4 separate regions of the Homo sapiens genome follow, and regions 1, 3 and 4 are each reported to be linked to region 2. Evidence: microRNA targets listed by miRTarBase, many of them from high-throughput screens and not tested one by one. Region 2 holds a microRNA gene; each other region holds the end of a gene's coding sequence.
What was found. Region 2 holds the annotated microRNA hsa-miR-1296-3p (GAGUGGGGCUUCGACCCUAACC, at 944-965, shown strand). A microRNA usually pairs through its seed, bases 2 to 8, with sites in the 3' UTR of a target mRNA and lowers its output. Matches are read on the target gene's strand: a 7mer-m8 pairs with bases 2 to 8, a 7mer-A1 pairs with bases 2 to 7 and ends in A, and an 8mer does both.

Region 1 (3,068 bases), not on the chromosome of region 2:
AGCAAGACTGGAGCAGAACACCAGGGGAAAGTTTACTGTGCAGGGAATAACATTTCAAGTGAAGTCAGTGGGGTCAAGTCAAGGCCTTGGCCCTGCCTGTGTTCCATGAGTTCCTCCCACAAATGAGTGATCAAGGGTTCAGGCTTTGGGGTCATATAGGGAAAACTCTGGGTTAAAAAATGGAATTGAAATTCTCACTCTTTGCCTAATATACTATATAACCCTAGGCAAGTCACTTAATGTTTCAACCAGTTTTCATTGTAAAAGTATCTGTCCTATCTTAACAAAGGCAAAATTGAGCTGACAAATGCAAGGGTGTTAAGGAATTGATTGAAAGGACATGTATATGTCTGACCAAAACAGTCTGCCCAGACTCCCGAGCAGCAGTGGAACTTAAGGAATTGTTTTCTCCAGGATCCTTGGACCTCCCAGAGCTTCAGCCTGCAGCCTTTGTGTCTTCTTACCAGCCCATGTACCTGACACATGAACCCTTGGTAGATACTCACCTGCAGCACTTGAAGTCTCCATCACAGGGTAGCCCAATTCAGTCTTCAGATTGAACAAGAAGGGATCAGATGCCACATCGTTTTTGTCGTGATTAATTTAACTTAAACTAAAATTTTGGGTATATGAAAGAAGGCAGCAATTCAGAAGTAAAGAAGATACTAACGTATTTCATCATGGAAGGTCCTGTGGTGATGGTTTTCCCTGGGAAAACCTTCAGCTGCTTTATTTTTAGTAATAAATTTCTCTTGTCAATTCTGTTTACTTTCATCTTGTAATCGGGATGTAATCTTTTTTGCTTAGCTCTGCCTGAGGTAAAGTAAACTTCAGCCTCTTATAAACAAGAGTGATAGAGAGCTGCAGGCTGCTACAACAAATACCATAGACAGGTTGGTTTATAAATAACATGAATTTATTTCTCACAGTTCTGGATGCTGGGAAGTCCAAGTTCAAGGAGCGCAGATTCAATGTCTGGTGAGGGCCCACTTCCTAGTTCTTAGACAGCTGTCTTCCTGCAGTGTCCTCACGTGGTAGAAGAGGAAGGCAGCTCTCCGGGGTCCCTTTTATAAGATCACTAAGCCGGTTCATGAGAGGTCTGCTCTCATGACCTAATCACCTCCCAAAGGCCCCACCTCCCAATACCATCACATTAGGGGTTAGGATTTAACATGAATTTTGGGGACATATAAACATTAAGTCTGTAGTAGCAGCAGCTGACTAACGAGGGAGATAGGGAGATTCTGACAAACTTCTACTCTTGATTGTGATCCTAATTCAAGGAATATCAAGTCCCAGCCCCTGCAACCCAGGCTGCTGCTTAATTTTCATGTCAGTATCATCAAAATCCAATGTTCTGCTTAAACTCAAGATGGAAAGTCCAGTCCAAGGTACACTGTTCATCTTTTTCTTCACATTTTGCACATCCTTCAAGGGGATCTTTAACCTCTTTAACCTTTGTATTGCACCTCAGATAATGTGCTTTTTAGCTCAGTACACTGAAACCATATGATAACACAAATTCACATATAATTGGGGGTTAGTCCCATACTCTATAACAGACTTAGTCCTGTCTTTTCATTAGCCATGTAATAATATAACTCCATGTTCCATGCAACTGGATTTTTGGACCCTGTTAATAGCATTAAGGTAGAGGTTTACTCTATCACCTAACACCTCAACACTACCTGTGGGATGCCTTAGTTACCCAGCAGCAGGTTACCAAGGGCTGTCTGGAAAGGGAGGGACAAAAGGACCCAGAAGTAGAAGAATGGGGATGGAGTGGTGAGAATTGAATGGTTAATGCACTGCCATTCATAATTGCCAATTGAGGACAACACAAATGGGATTGGTACTTTATAGTAATAAATCTGACCAGCAGAGGGAGGGATCAGGCAGCAGTGTTTAGAGCACACCACACTGGCCACTGTAAACTGAGAAGCTAAGTTAACTGGTATTTTATGATTTTGAGTATAGTCTTTTTATAAGTTGTATACACTTTACAATGTAAAAGAAACAAACTTTGTATAATAGCAAATCGGGAAGGGGACTGCTTAAAATGTTAATGCAGTGTTTTTCTTTTTTTCTCTGCATAAATGGCTTGAGCATACTGGCATTTACACAGAAATGATATATGCTGCTTTTATCATATAACAAATATTTTCCCACTATTACAGCCTGAGTAATACCCGTATTAAAAGAGCCTCATTTTAGAAAGACATTTAAAATTTTTGGAACATACCACATGTAGAAAGGTTGAACTGGTTTTTCAGCTATAATGCATATACAACTATAGTGTGTACGTATACCACATATACATATACTTGTATGAAGATATGTGTAAAATGTTTTTACTATGGATCATGGATTTAAGAAACTTGAAAAGCTGGGCACGGTGGCTCACGCCTGTAATCCCAGCACTTTGGGAGGCTGAGGCGGGTGGATCAAGAGGTCAGGAGATCGAGACCATCCTGGCTAAGTCGGTCTCTAATAAAAATACAAAAAATTAGCCAGGCGTGGTGGCACGCGCCTGTAGTCCCAGCTACTCGGGAGGCTGAGGCAGGAAGAATCGCTTGAACCCGGGAGGCAGAGGTTGCAGTGAGCCGAGACCGCGCCACTGCACTCCAGCCTGGGCAACAGAGCAAAACTCCAACTCAAAAACAAAAACAAAAACACCTTGAAAAACACTGCCTTAGTATACTTAAACTATCTTTTCATCTATCAGATTGTTAAGGATTTTTTTTAAATTTGACAACATCCAGTGTCAATGAGGGTGAGGGCAAAAAAAGGACTACCTTGGTGAGAATGTAAGTTGTTTAATCCTTTGGGAGGGTTAAGCTGTAGATATCTAAATTTTAAATATATATTTATCCTCTTCCATGTTAAGAACCCTAAGAAATAACTGGACGAGTGTGGTATGATGTTTGCATGTGATATTCATTACAGTATTATTTTAATAGTAGAAAATTGTTAAAAATCTATATGTCCATTAATAGGAAATTGGTTAAATAAAATGAGGCTTCCACAAACTGAAACACTCTAAATCTATATTCTATTATTTACATAAG
Region 2 (3,078 bases):
AAAATAGTCAATTTAAGTTTCATAAGCATTTTGCAAACATTTATATACAGTTGATATGACTGAGATTTTATTGTTTCCTTTTTTGTTCATTAAAATTTGGCTTCTTTAAGGATGTCTATAAACAGCAATTATAAAGTTAAGCGTTTTAAAATTCCTACAGCGTAATGAAATACTATATCTACAGATTTGAGAAATTTGAGGGATCTGTATATGAGATGGCAATAGAATGAAACAGTAGAAACTAATACTTTGTCTTTAATTTTCTACAAATTTAATGTTTCTATTTCTGTGCACATGATACTTGCTTTATGTTCTTTTGTATTTAAACATGTTTGTATTTATTATCTTCTTTCTAGTTGTTTCACTCCTCGTGTGGTACTTGTTTAATATTACATATCAGTTACGTTATCTTGTCTACCTCTTATACCTAGAAATTAGTGGAAACTGGCAGTGTACCTGCTGTTTCTTGAGATCATGACAAGACAAAAACAAATCCTGTTGTCTCATTAACATATTTTAAAGTATATTTTTTAAAACTTAACATAATTGCATCTTCAGCAAAATATGAATAGTATAATACCCAGGCTCCTTCTCTGGAATTGTCTGGTTCCTCTTTCTTTCTAGGATATCAGTAGCAAAACATTTATGGGAGCACCACATGTAAGATGCTGAAGTGGTGTCTTTTTTTGCTTGGTCCTGTACAATCAGAGTACCACTTGAGGCCATTCTAATGCTGTAGGCTGAGGTAACTTGCGTCTTCATGTAAGTTACTTAATAGATTGTTAAATTTTATTTACTTTTTAATAAAGTAAAATACTTGTGAAAGCACATTTATCGGCACCAGGGAAAGAAAGTGTTGGCATTCATAATTGAAATCAACGAATCACCTACCTAACTGGGTTAGGGCCCTGGCTCCATCTCCTTTAGGAAAACCTTCTGTGGGGAGTGGGGCTTCGACCCTAACCCAGGTGGGCTGTAACACTGCTGTGTTTTCTAAGGGGCAGAGTTTTCTACTACTTTTCCGCTGGCCCAGCCTTCCAGATCACCCCAACCAGTGCTCCTATATAACCATCCTGTGCTCCTATAGAACTTTGTTTTGTACCTCTGTTTTAACAATCAGCACATTCTGCTTTGTATTATACCTATTTGTTTGCATGTCTGTCTTCCCTTAATAGATTGTAAGTTCTTTGAGGACAGGAGTCATGTCTTAGTCATCTATGTATGGTTCCTTGGAGTCTAGCACAGTGCTTTACCCATCTCAGAAAGTAAATTCTTATTTTAAAGTGATGAATGTGCTGCAACCCAGCTAGTGAAAAAGAACCCTACTGGGAGTTATCACAAGTTTTCTGACTATTAACATATGATAATATCAAAGGACAGGAAAGCAGAATCACCCAATTGTGGTAAAACTGTGAGTTACCAATTTTAAACATGTCAATATATAATAAAAAATACTAAAAAGCTTATAATGCCAATTCTCATCAGGTACAAATTTGATTCCTGAAATCACCAAGGGGAAAAATGTAAAATTACCTGAAATGCGTTATTTTAAAGATGTTAAAGGAAGAAACAGAAGTCCTCACAATTGACTTAAATATTCAAATCTTTGATAATTTACTTGAATTTCTGAATTGAGTTTTAGGAAACTCAGACTACTTTTTCTCAATGTAGCTTTTCCTTCATAGATAGGCAATTCTGGTTCAACCAGGAATTGTGATGACATCATAAACACGTAAACTCTTAGCAATTTATTTATTTTAAAATATTCTCTTAGAGTGCTTTTTACTTACTATCTGTTCCAAAAGAAACCCCCTCAAAGGAGAATAGAGTTCACTGCTCTTTGGGACAAGATTACCTTTATATCCAGCAGTTATCAAAGTTGGTTTAGATTATGGCCTCAAGCAAATTTTACTAAAATGTGAAAATATGCCACCTTCCAAGTCAGAAATAAACTTTGGAGTATGTTCATTTAAAGAGTTTTTACATATTTATAATTGAATTTCCACAATTAGAATAAACAGTTGCATGTCTTTTTGTACTTTGTTAAATAATGAAATGGAAGTAATGACAATATAACTTCAGGATTGTTATTTCTCTACAAGGTAAAGCACTTTAAGAGATCAAATTATACATAATAAAATATTAAGCTTTTTAAATGATAAACTCTAATACTGGCATGTATTGCAATGAACGAGTTCACACACTCATATCTTGTGGATTATAAAATGACATTATTCTTTTGGAAAGTATTATGTTATAAGAACCATAAGAAGTTCATACTCTTTGATTCATTAATTCTAGTCTTAGGAAACGATGCTTGAAAAACAGTTTTTAAAAAGTGTATTCAGTTTAGCTAATGTTTGTCACGTACCTCATACGAATTAGACACTGTGGTGGGAGCTGCAGATTAAAAAAATGAAAGGTTTAATGTTATTAGAAGAAAGATGTTTATTGCAGTCTTATTAAAGAGGAAAAGAAAAATGGAACAACCTTGATGTTCAACAATTTGTGAATGCTGTTAAATTAATATTTTGGCATATTATGCAGCTTTAAAAGTGATAATTGTACATACTTTAGGAAAATGTAGAGAAAATTTAAGTAAAAAAAATTAATTACATCAGCACTAGAATTATGTATTTAAAAAGTCTTATAGACCAGGGACAGTGGCTCATGCCTATAATCCCAGCACTTTGGGAGGTTGAGGCGGGAGAATTGCTTGAGTCCAGGAGTTCAAGACCAGCCAGGGCAGCATAGCTATACCCTCATCCCTACCAAAAAAAAAAAAAAATTAGCCTATTGTAGTGGCGCAAGCCTTGTAGTCCCAGCTACTCAGGAGGTTGAGGTGGGAGGATTGCTTGACTCCAGGAGTACAAGGCTATGGTGAGCTATGATTATGCCATTGCACTCCAGCCTGGGCAATGGAGCAAGACCCTGTCTCAACGGAAAATATATATATTATAAAGTAATGGAGATCATTATTTTATATTATGGCAGAATTTTGCCTGACCAAAATTGTCTTTTCCCTAAAAAACAACTATTATTTCCTAGCAAATTGGAAATTTCATATAATGATGTTAT
Region 3 (3,078 bases), not on the chromosome of region 2:
ACAGATAAATTGTTCCAGTTCATGGCTAGTAAGTACCCAAGCCACAGTTTCAATCCAGTTTGGTTCCAGAGCCTGCTCACTTACCAGGATGCTATATTGTGCTTCTCAAAAAATAGAAAGGGAAGAAGTATACTTTCACTCTGTATTTTGTCACACATCTCTTTTTTCTAGAGTGAGCATGTAATCTGAAAAAAATCTATTTAAAGCTAGCCAGTTTAATTTGACGTAAAGGTCAAGCATTTAATTTTATTTATTTATTTATTTAGAGACGGAGTCTTGCTCTGTCGCCCAGAGCAACCAGGGGTGACTCAATGTGGTACTTATTAGGTCTTTTTTTTTTTTTTTTGAGACGGCGTCTCACTCTGTCACCCAGGCTGGCATGCAGTGGCATGATCTTGGCTCCCCACAACCTCTGCCTCCCAGGTTCAAGCGATTCTCCTGCCTCAGCCTCCCGAGTAGTGGGACTACAGACACACGCCACATGCTCAGCTAATTTTTGTATTTTTAGTAGAGACAGGGTTTCACTATGTTGGGCAGGCTGGTCTGGAACTCCTGACCTCGTGATCTGACCGCCTTGGCCTCCCAAAGTGCTGGGATTACAGGCGTGAGCCACTGCACCTGGCCTATATTAGGTCTTATTCTTTAAAAAGTAAAAGCTTTTATTGGGCTGGTTTTTGCCAGAAAGCATCAACCTTGCTTATAGGACCAAATTTTTGCAACTCTACGCATAATCAGACCTGGCACAATGGCTCACCGCTGTAATTCCAACACTTCAGAAGGCTGAAGTGAGGATCCCTTGAGCCCAGTTTGAGCCCACAGTGAGGCCTTGTCTCTACAATTTTTTTTTTTTTTTTAATTAGCCAGGCGTGGTGACACAAACCTGTGGTGCCAGCTATTCAGGATACAGTTGGGAGGATCACTTGAGACCAGGAAGTCAAGGCTGCAGTGGGCCATGTTCACACCTCTGCACTCAGGCCTGGGTGACAGAGTGAGACCCTGTCTCACCACCCTCCCCTCAAAAAAAGCATAAGCAGGCCAGTCGCAGTGGCTCACGCCTGTTATCCTAGCAGTTTGGGAGGCCAAGGTGGGTGGATTTGCCTGAGCTCAGGAGTTCGAGACCACCCTGGGCAACACGGTGAAACCCCGTCTCTACTAAAATACAAAAAATTAGCCGGGCGTGGCGGCATGCACCTGTAATCCCAGCTACTCAGGAGGCTGAGACAGGAGAATCGCTTCAACACTCGGGAGATGGCAGTTGCAGAGATCAGGCCACTGCACGCCAGCCTGGGCGACAGAGCAAGACTCCATCTCGGGAAGAAAAAAAAAAAATTTATATATATATATTCTGCTAGCTACATCCCAGCCAAGTTAGCTTTTCTATCCTCCACCACTTGGATATGTAATTTCTTGATTGTGCTAGTGCCAAAGGCTCTCCTTAGTGGTCTGCTTGCTGTCCTTCCCACCTGTTTTCCACAGGACAACCACAGTGACATTCTGAAAAAGTAAATTTGATTAGGCAGGCCTTCTTTTAAGGACCTCATAAAGGTCATCCCTCCATCACCTTATTAATTCCTATTCGTCTTTCAGACCACCGCTGAAACTTCACTTCTACACAGAGGCTTTCTTTCCCAGAAACCCAGACCAGGTCAGTTACCTGCTTTATGTGCGTGTATCCCTATGTTCCTTTACTTCAAAACCCTTACTAGCGTCATAATTTTACATATCTTTTTTTTTTTTTAGATGGAGTTTCACTCTGTCGCCCAGGCTGGAGTGCAGTGGCACGATCTCGGCTGACTGCAGCCTCTACCTGCTGGGTTCAAGCAATTCTTCTGCCTCAGGTTCCTGAGTAGCTGGGATTACAGGTGCGCACCACCATGCCTGGCTAATTTTTGTATTTTTAGTAGAGACGAGGTTTCACCACGTTGGCGAGGCTGGTCTTGAACTCCTGACCTCAAGTGATCCACTGCCTCGGCCTCCGAAAATCTGGAATTATAGATGTGAGCCACTGCGCCAGGCCTGTAATTTTATGTATCTTTATGTGATTATTTGAATGTCCCTCTCTGACTAGATTATAAATTCTAAGGATAGTGTGTCTATTTTTGCTTACCTTTTATCCCCAGCACCTAGTCTAACACTTTACAAATATATATTAAATTAATATTTTGATAAGTTACTCAAAGTGCTACATAAAACAAAATTATAGAAAATAGTACTTTGGTAACTGTTTCGTTTTATCATTGCTTTCATTATTTCTCTGTTAACCTCAGTTTACAACTGAAAAAGACAAATTGTATATTATTCAGGCAATTTATTAAACATTACCTATAGAATATTATGATCTGTATTTTACAGAAGTTAAAAAGTGATGTATTAGTATTCATAACAACTGCTCCATGCAGGAGTAATAGAAGTCAACATTAAGCCCAACTCTATTTTCAGACCAACCATGCAACTTTAGATCAGAGGACACATGGGACTCTGCATCTTAATTCCTAAATTTACAGTCAAAGACATTTTCAGAGATAAGTATTATGAATTCAATAAGAATCTAAAGTAAGTTCTTAAGGCAAATAGCTATAAAAGAGAAGAATCCTTAGTCTCTCATCTTCTAAAAACAGCTTCACAAATAATTTGGAAAATCAGCCTAAAGGTAAATAGAAACTGCATTTCCCCTCCATTCTTGAAGCCAATCTTTTTCAAGAAATGACTAAGCAGCACCTGTTGTTGAAGACAGCAATAAAGCCTGAACCTGACACTCAAGCTTTGGTACAGGATCAGTTTTCTGGCTTGGACTGGTCAGGAGTCACTTCACTCAGAATCTTCATTAGTGATTTTAAGCGATTGTGCGTTAGCACTATCTTCTCTTTCAGCTAGGAAGAGAAATATATAGATATCAGGGCATCTTTTTTTATTTTTACTTATTTTAAGAGACAGGGTCTCACTCTGTTGCCTGAGCTGGAGTACAGTGGCACATTCATAGTTCACTGCAGCCTCAAGCTCCTGCTCTCAAGTGATCCTCCCACTTCAGCCTCCTGATTAGCTAGGACTACAGTCATGTGTTTTAAATTTTCTTTGTAG
Region 4 (3,078 bases), not on the chromosome of region 2:
TTGCCTTCTCGCGCAGCGGACGGCTGCTGCTCGCTGGCTACGACGACTTCAACTGCAACATCTGGGATGCCATGAAGGGCGACCGTGCAGGTGACAGCTGGGGCCCAGGCTGGGTGGGCAGGGACCTGGAGCCCAGGCCCAATGGGTTCTGACTTCTCTCTTCTTCACAGGAGTCCTCGCTGGCCACGACAACCGCGTGAGCTGCCTCGGGGTCACCGACGATGGCATGGCTGTGGCCACGGGCTCCTGGGACTCCTTCCTCAAGATCTGGAACTAATGGCCCCACCCCCACTGGGCCCAGGCCAGGAGGGGCCCTGCCCATGCCCACACTACAGGCCAGGGCTGCGGGGCTGGCGCAATCCCAGCCCCCTTCCCCGGGCCACGGGGCCTTGGGTCCCTGCCCTCCCACCCAGGTTTGGTTCCTCCCGGGGCCCCCACTGTGGAGATAAGAAGGGGATGGAATGGGGGAAGAGGAGGAGCAGGAGGCCCTCATCCTTCTGCTGCCCTGGGGTTGGGGCCTCACCCCTCTGGAGGGCCGGAGGCAGGAGGTGGAAACCCCAGGGGCTGGCTTTTTTAAAACTGGTTTTATTTTAATTTTTATTATATTTTCAGTTTTTCCATAAAGGAGCCAATTCCAACTCTGTACCTGGTCTCTGCCCTTGCTGTGTTCTCCTTGTTTCTGGACTTTGTTGCCTGAGGGCTGCTGAGGGGGTGGATGGTGGGGAAGGTATGGGGCCTGCCAGGCAGCTGGGGCTGGGGGTGGGGTCCCCACTCTCCCTCAGAGCAAAGCTGAAGCCCCAGCCCAGAGCCTTCCGTCCAGAGGTTCTCGGATAAGCAGCCCTCACCATGGTTTCCCCCGTCAGGCTGCTGACCAGAGCCAGCCTGACCAGGCGGGCACTGCTCAGAGCTCCTAGTTCCCAGCTCTGTGCAGAGCCACTCATCCCCATGGCTCTCCCCAGATAACGAGCAGTGGAGGCGGAACGGGAGAACACACACCAAGTTTTATTGGGAGAAGGGAGTATTTACAGGAGCAGGTAAAAGAGAGGGAAGTCACACAGGGTGGAGAGGGGGCGGGGAGACTGTGGGTACAAGGCAGACAGGGAACACGGTGACCCCTGCACCCACCCCAACCCCAGGAAGGGCAGGGGAGCAGCGAGGGCCCAGGAAGACCGGGGCCGGGGAAGGACAGCAACAGGGTCTGAGTCCCTGGGCAGGGGGGCTCAGGGGCTTGTAAACATTGACCACTCTCAGAAGGGGATGGGGGTGGGAGAGGGCTCCCCCTATACTTCCTCACAGGGTTAAGGCCTCTCCAGGCTCATGGGCCCCCTAAGTCCAAAGTCTCTTTAGCTGGGGAGAAGAGACAGGAAGAGTGTCCCCCTTCCCCTGCATTGGCTGCGGCAGGGGTGGGGGGGTTACATTCAGTCACAACAGGAGTCTCCCCCACACCTGGCAAGAGGGAAGGGGAGCTGGGGGCCAGCAGCAGCAAACACTCCCCCCGGCCCGTCACCCCTTATTGCTTTAGAGAGAATATTGTCTTTTCAGGGACGCTAACACTGTGGGAACCAGGGAGAGGCAGGTGGGGGCCCCCCACCCCGAGGCCAGCTTGATCCCCCAACACTGACCTAGTTGCCACTTTGGTGCAAAAAAAAAAAAAAAAAAAAAAAAATCCAACAACAGAAAACCAAACACCATCTTTCTGGGACTAGATGGGGAAAGAAACGGGCCACTCCCCATGTCCCCAGGGCAGGAGGGAGAAATACATTCATGGAGGGAGGCAGTGGCGAAGCCTTGCCCTAATACTGCACTCTGAGCAATGAGGTCAATGGGAGGAGCTGGATGAGAAACCCAAAAGACAAAACTGTTACAAAACCCAAAATGGGCGGAGACGAACCCAAGTAGGGGACCGGGAATAAGAAGTGGGTGAGCAATAGAAGGGGCAGCCTCCTCTGACCCAGGAGCCGCACACTTCTCTTCACCCCAACCTTACCCAACGGTAAAAAGCGCATCATATCAGACCCGGAAGGCCACCTGCTCCTCTCCCATTTGGTCAGCGGAAGGGTCAGGTGCAGAGCTGGGTGGTCCACATCTTACGAGCTGGCTACAGGTTGGGGCCCCGGGCGGCAGCCCCTCTACTGCAACCCTAAGCCCAAAGCCACCCACTCCTTGCCTTTGAGGCCCCTCCTCCTGCCCCCTTCACTGGAGAAACAGCTCAGCCTTCTCTCTGCAGCCTCTGGAGCAATCATCCACCCCCGCCGCTCACAGGGGTGAGGCAGCTCAGGCAGGGGTGAGGCGGGGGCTTGTGGCCCAAAGAATACATTCACGTGGCAAGGCAGAGAGCTGGGGCTTTCAGGTTCAAACCCAGGGTGTCCCCCAAAATGGCAGCAGTGGGAGACGCCCCTCACCAGAACCAGAGTCCTGCTGCCCCACCCTGCCAGCCAGAGAGGTTGGCACGGCTTGGCCCCTCCCGTCTACTCGGCCAGCACAAGATGGCAGCCAGAGAGCTGGGGCCACTCGTCCAATTTGTGCAACTGTCCCCCAAAGCAGCGAAGCCAAGGGGCTACTTTGGCCCCACCCCGGACACCTCAGCCAGCCTCAGTGACAGGAGCTGCTCACAACAGGTCTGGCGGGTGGGGCTCAGACAGGCCTCCTGTGCAAACTGCTGGCCCCCAGCTTCCAGTTACCCCATGGCCCGCCTTCTGGGGGGTAAGTATGGCCTTGGGGGCCAGGCAGGACAGGTCCACGGGGCCTGTGTCCCCACTGCCCCAAAATAACAGTGTGTTTTTTCTTTCAGCCTCCTAACCATTTTTTTTTTCATTTTTCATCTTTTTTTCTTAAAAAAAAAAAAAAAACCAAAAAACAAAAACCTCTGTGGACCTTCCATTGTCACACCCACTATCCTCACAGCAGGAAGGGGTGTTTAGAGTCTAGTTTTTAACAATATTTTTGCCTCTCCTAATGTTTTCTTCAGTCGTTTAAAATTAAAAAAAAAAATAAAAAGAAAAACCCCCTCCCCCAGTCTGTAAAGTGCCTCGTGGTGGGTGAGTTAAGGTGCATCGTGTGTTTGTAACAAGTGCTGGG

Region 1: the mRNA of TBRG1 is a reported target of hsa-miR-1296-3p. Seed matches in the 3' UTR shown: 7mer-A1 at 2,165-2,171.
Region 3: miRTarBase lists OIP5 as a target of hsa-miR-1296-3p. The part of its 3' UTR that is shown has no 7-base or 8-base seed match.
Region 4: the mRNA of GNB2 is a reported target of hsa-miR-1296-3p. Seed matches in the 3' UTR shown: 7mer-m8 at 287-293 and 7mer-m8 at 433-439.

Annotation. Positions count from the first base shown.
Region 1 is chr11:124,631,679-124,634,746 of GRCh38, forward strand. TBRG1 (transforming growth factor beta regulator 1) reads left to right here. Exons shown (of 9, transcript NM_032811.3): 9 at 415-3,068. The coding sequence ends at 560. It overlaps SIAE (sialic acid acetylesterase), which reads right to left. Exons shown (of 10, transcript NM_170601.5): 10 at 1,435-3,068. Among named protein-coding and RNA genes, the nearest start is that of TBRG1, 10 kb to the left of the region's middle.
Region 2 is chr10:63,370,856-63,373,933 of GRCh38, reverse strand. MIR1296 (microRNA 1296) reads left to right here and starts at 886; the gene lies at 886-977. The region is part of intron 2 of JMJD1C (jumonji domain containing 1C); the gene reads left to right.
Region 3 is chr15:41,306,980-41,310,057 of GRCh38, forward strand. It overlaps OIP5 (Opa interacting protein 5), which reads right to left. Exons shown (of 5, transcript NM_007280.2): 5 at 2,294-2,870. The coding sequence ends at 2,775. It overlaps OIP5-AS1 (OIP5 antisense RNA 1), which reads left to right. Exons shown (of 5, transcript NR_152821.1): 3 at 1,588-1,645; 4 at 1,741-1,862. Among named protein-coding and RNA genes, the nearest start is that of OIP5, 24 kb to the right of the region's middle.
Region 4 is chr7:100,678,525-100,681,602 of GRCh38, forward strand. GNB2 (G protein subunit beta 2) reads left to right here. Exons shown (of 10, transcript NM_005273.4): 9 at 1-90; 10 at 171-645. The coding sequence ends at 277. GIGYF1 (GRB10 interacting GYF protein 1) reads right to left here. Exons shown (of 27, transcript NM_001375765.1): 27 at 983-3,078. Among named protein-coding and RNA genes, the nearest start is that of GNB2, 6.3 kb to the left of the region's middle. RefSeq lists an enhancer at 704-833.